Linked DNA regions of Homo sapiens: region 2 is linked to region 1. Evidence: fine-mapped expression QTL. Tissue or cell type: whole blood. Region 1 holds a variant in brackets; the other region holds the start of a gene. All regions are shown on one strand. Distances are from middle to middle.

Evidence for each region. PIP is the estimated chance that this variant, and not a neighbour inherited with it, causes the effect.
Region 2: it holds the start of ATRIP, and the variant in region 1 is fine-mapped to the expression of ATRIP in whole blood (INTERVAL, PIP above 0.99).

What each region holds. Positions count from the first base shown.
Region 1 is chr3:49,351,504-49,354,185 of GRCh38, reverse strand. No RefSeq gene overlaps it. Among named protein-coding and RNA genes, the nearest start is that of GPX1, 5.5 kb to the left of the region's middle. RefSeq lists an enhancer at 1,647-1,726. The variant C/G (reference allele first, on the strand shown) is at 1,661.
Region 2 is chr3:48,445,478-48,448,159 of GRCh38, reverse strand. ATRIP (ATR interacting protein) reads right to left here and starts at 1,423. Exons shown (of 13, transcript NM_130384.3): 1 at 1,068-1,423. The coding sequence starts at 1,314. It overlaps ATRIP-TREX1 (ATRIP-TREX1 readthrough), which reads right to left and starts at 1,381. Exons shown (of 15, transcript NR_153405.1): 1 at 1,068-1,381. It also overlaps a transcript of CCDC51 not described here. RefSeq lists a silencer at 1,119-1,478.

The sequences.
Region 1 (2,682 bases):
GGGCACCTGTAGTCCCAGCTACTCGGGAGGCTGAGGCAGGAGAATGGCGTGAACCCGGGAAGCGGAGCTTGCAGTGAGCCGAGATTGCGCCACTGCAGTCCGCAGTCCGACCTGGGCGACAGAGCGAGACTCCGTCTCAAAAAAAAAAAAAAAAAAAAAGAATAAAGAAGAGGACCAGGCCCAGTAGGGAGGCTCATGCATGCCTCCTGGAAAAAGTGACAGTGAGGCTGGGTGCGGTGGCTCACACCTGTGATCCCAGTACTTTGGGAGGCCAAGGTGGGCAGATGGCTTGATGGCTTGAGGTCAGGAGTTTGAGATGAGCCTGCCCAACACGGCGAAACCACGTCTCTATTAAAAATATGATAATTAGCTGGGCGTGGTGGCGGGCACCTGTAATCCCAGCTACTCAAGAGTCTGAAGCAGGAGAATCACTTGAACCCAGGAGGTGGAGGTTGCAGTGAGCCGAGATGGTATCACTGCACTCCAGCCTGGGCAACAGAGCAAGACTCCATCTCAAAAAGAAAAAGTGGCTGGGCGCGGTGGCTCACACCTGTAATCCCAGCACTTTGGGAGGCCAAGGTGGGCGGATGACAAGGTCAGGAGATCGAGACCATCCTGGCTAACACGGTGAAACCCTATCTCCACTAAAAATACAAAAAATTAGCTGGGCGTGGTGGCGAGCACCTGTAGTCCCAGCTACTCGGGAGGCTGAGGCAGGAGAATGGCGTGAACCTGGGGGGCGGAGCTTGCAGTGAGCCGAGATTGCACCACTGCACTCTAGCCTGGGTGACAGAGCGAGACTCCCTCTCAGAGAAAAAAAAAAAATTGAGACTGAAAAGAAGTCAAGAAGCAGTTGGTTAAAGAATAAGCTGATGGCGGGTGAGCAGGCAGGGAGTATAGTGTGTGAGATCCTGAGATGGGAAGGTGGCATTCTTGACTAAGTCAGCAACAGGAGGAGCAGGTTTTGGGGGTAGGTGGATGTGTTCAGATTCAGCTATACTGCATTAGACATCCAGACAGAGGTATCTGGGGCAGGCAGTTACAAGAGGCGCAGAAGAAGAGAATGTTGAAAGGCAATGGTCTAGCCACGGGAGCAGTAGCCACTGGAGAGGATGAGGTCACGTGGGGAAAGTGGCAAGAAAAAGATTAGGGGACCTGGGCCTGAGGCCTATAGATTCACAATCCTTCCAGATGAGATGGCAGAGAGAAATAGCTGGGGAGGAACAAGGTTGGAGCAAGGAGCCAAGGGAAGGGACAGTTCCTAAAGAATAGTTAGCTGGAACCCATGCTTCTGGACTGCCTGCAGTCTCGGGGCAGCTGGAACCAAAGCTAGAAAGCCATGTGTCTAGGAGGTACCAGGTCCTATTCTAGGAGATGAATATACAGTGCCCAGGAGTCACCCAGGTACTTGTGAAAATATATGTTCCACAACCCACCTCCAGAGACACCAAAGTGGAAAGTCTAGGGACCTAGGGTCCTACTCAGTGTTCTACCAGCTGGACCTGTGAGAAGAGACATCCCACTTCAACTCTCCCCTTTCCTGTACAGGGTCAATGTGGCCTAGGCCACACTCTCTGGTTAGGCTACAGGATAGGAACCCAGAACTTTCCAATAAACTCCAACTTCTCTCCAGGATGCCTGGTGATTGACCCCTCCTTGC[C/G]CCATGCCACCCCCACCATCTCAGTTTATGCCTTGGACTACGAGTGAAGGGAACTTTTTTTGGTTTCCCCTGAAATTACTCAGCTTCAGTAAAGGGAACTTCTGAACTCCCAGTATGCCTGATCCTGGCTGGAGAACATTTCTCCTCAGACTTTAAGCTGTATGCCTCCTCTCTCAACTAGAAGTCATTTCTTTCTTTTTTTTTTTTTGACAGGGAGTCTCGCTCTATTGCCCAGGCTGGAATGCAGTGGTGCAATTTCAGCTCACTCCAACCTGTCTCCCGGGTTCAAGCAATTCTCCTGCCTCAGCCTCCTGAGTACCCGAGACTAATTTTTTTGTATTTTTAGTAGAGGCAGGGTTTCACCATGTTGGCCAGGCTGGTCTTGGACTCCTGACTTCAAATGATCCACCCACCTGGGCCTCCCAAAGTGCTGGGATTACAGGCGTGAGCCACCATGCCCGGCCAGTCCTTTCTAACTCTCTCTTCTCCAGGAAGTTTCAGAGTAAAGCCAGTTAAGACTTCACTGTCTTCCCCCAACACACACAGACACACTCTCACACATACACATTCTTTTCATTCAACCATGCAACTGCTGCTGCTCTGACTGGTACCCACCCCACCCCATTGTGAATCAGCAGCTCAAATAAACAAGTAAAAGAGTAGAAATCACATTCAGCCTATGTGAAGTCCTGGCTTTAAAAGCAGAAATGGCTGCAGAGCATTGCTTGCACAGAAAACACATACAGCATTTAGGCCACTGACCTAGGTTCAGAAACTTCCATTTCAGCAGTTCTTACAGAAGGGCTGCTTTTGGGGTTTTTTTTCAAACATTAAATCTGATAAAATTAGGTCAGGCATTTCTTGCACAATTAGCAGTTGATCAAATGACTTCCTTATTCTGACTCAACGTAGTCCTAAAAACAACATTTAAAACAAGTTTATTTTCAGGCTCAGTGCAGTGGCTCACACCTATAATCCAAGCACTTTGGGAGGCTAAGGTGGGCAGATTGTTTGAGCTCAGG
Region 2 (2,682 bases), 910 kb after region 1:
GTGTTCACGTATATCTGTGTAAGACACAGCCAGATTTGAGTTTTGAAAAGATCACTCAGAATGTGATGTGAAGCCTCACTTGTAGGGAGTCAAGACTGGAAATGGGAAACCAATTTAGCAGACCATTGTTCAAGAGAGGACTCATGGTAACACAGATCAGGCAGCTGGTAGAAGCAATGTGAATAGGATAGACTCCAGAGAAGGATTAAGAAGGTAAGCTTGACATGCTTTCCAAATAAATTAGATGTAGAGTCAAGGAAAGGGGAAGAGTCGCTTTGTGCCACTGGATGGAGAGTCGTGCTAGTTACTTCCTTGTGGAACATCTGGTCATCATTCTCTGAATGTCTGCTTTGCCGGCACCATGCTAGAAGTGCTGGAGGAGGACTGGGTTTCCAGGAAATGATCGTGTTGAGTTTAAGGTGCCTTGAGACACCCAAGTACAGATGCAAGGTGCACTCAAAACATTTCTCTTTCTGGGAGTCCTCAAGACTTCACTCACTCCTCAACTAGAATGTAAGCTCCATGAAGGACAGTTTTTGTATTTTGTTCATTGTAAGGTCAGCTGCAGTTCCTCACGTTTGGGCACCTAGCACAGTTTACTGGTTGTATAAAAGAATAAATTTATTTCATCTCTTGCCTGTGTCTGGCTCCTCCCATGCTCACACTGCCCAAGGGAGACAGTGGGCTTCATAAGATCTAAAGCCGCTCAAACTTGTCACAAGAATGGGTCCCCATGCATGGGTAGTGATGGTTCTGATGGTGGTGGTAGGTGTGTTCCAAGGATCTCTGCTTAGAACCAAGAACCAAGTGGCCTAAACTTTAGAAAATAACGTAAAATGTCAACTTAGCCTTCTGTGTTTCAAATCGGCTGTTTGACCTGGCTAATGCATTTCCCCCTAAAATCAAAGGACCTTCTGGAAGACAACCGCTGCTTAAATCAGGGTGTTCCCATATTTTAAAAAGGCGAAAAGGCAGTGCTGGCCGCGAGGTTCCGAAGCCACAGCCATCAAGGGGATCTGGCGCGGTTGACAACTCCCTCCGAGCAAAAGGCCGCGAGGAGCACTCACTGGACACGTCCCGAGCCGCGGCCGGACATTGGCTCAGGGCCTGTGACGCGAGGGTGTCAAGCTCCTCCAGGTCGTCGGCAGTGAAGTCCCCATGCGCGCCGAACGGGTCGTCAGGGTCCGGGGCAGCGGCTGCGGAGAAGCCCCGGGCCCGCTTGCTCGGGGGGTGCCCGGTGCCCGGCGGCGGGCCGGGGCGAGGCGCCGGGGGCTCGCTCCGCCTCTTGCTGCCTGGCGCGGAGGTCCCCGCCATGCTTTCCGCTCACCCCAAGTATCCGACAGCGCCGAGCTAGACTTGCCTGCCGCCAGGCCGGAGAACTGGACCAACCGTCCGCGCGCCGCCGCTTGCCTCCGCCGCGAGTGCCCCGCCCCTGGCCCAGGGGCCAATCAGCTGGCAGGCGGAGGGCGCGGAGGAATGACGAACGTCCGAGCGCGCCGCCACACCCGGCCCCGCCCGGTGTTTAGAGGTCCACGGGCGGGATTCGGCAGGTTTGCTGCAAGGACTCAGTGCGGCGCGACCCGTTACCGGAGAGGCGGGCCGGAGGCGCACCAGCTCCGCCGCGCTGGTGGCTTTGCGCTCCCTCCCTGGCATTCCGTGGAGGAGGGCCGCGCAGGAGCAGCCTGCCCTAGCATTCACGCGTGTTGCGTTTGAGTCGAGCCAGGCATCATTCAGGGATGTGGTCTCCGTGACCTCGCTTTCCTTCTGCCGCCAGACCCACCTCCCACAAACCCCTAGGCTTTCTTGAGGAGAGTGGAATTTGTTGGGTGAGGAGTATGAATAGAGCTGTCGTGTGCAGACATCTTCGGGTTTAGTGAATGTTTCACATGTGTACATTTGAGGTAGGCCCAGGGAGGAGGAAAGTCCAAGGAGGAATGATGTTTGGAGCTGTTCTTGTGTGGGAGGGGGTGGGAGCTGCTCAGGCTGTTAACATCCATTCCTCTGAGTGCTGGACTGTTTTTTTTTCCTAAGCTCTGGTTGTATAGAATAGGGCTCAGGAGGTCAAGGAAGTCCCCCTGTAAATGGCACCTGCGCTGTCCTACAAGTTGAGTCAAGTTAGCAGGATAGAGGGGTAGGAGGCTGGCACATAAGACTAACACGAGAATTCTACATTGAAAGGGAGGCCACACAAAGGCCAGGTAAGAGTTACCGGTGGCGAACAGAGGTAAAGCTTCACAAAGGAGCAGCAATTTGAGGTGGGCTTGCGTGCCTGACAGATTTTATTGGGCAGCTGTGGTGTGCAGAAGTTAGCCGCAATAGAGAATTTGGCAATGGAGAGTAACAGGAGCAAGACTCTTTCAGCCTTACCTGCTCAGTGCCAAACTTCACCTGTGAGTGTCCTAGGAATATTTGTGAAAGCATTAAATGAAAAGAGTAAATGAAAAAGAGAGTGCTATCAGGGCCTATAATGTCTAAGGAGTTTAAAATTTTTTGGAGCAACTGGTAGTCTCCGTCAGATAGCTTCCCAAGTGTTGCATGCTTAATTGCTGCAGGACTCTGGTCCTGGAAAGAGACAGGACTGTTCATTTGTTAAAGAGGGATAGGTTCCACCAAGTAACTTGCTTTCAGGAACAGTGTGAATCACTGGTGCTCAGGTTTGTTTTAGCAGCATACGGCTGGGTG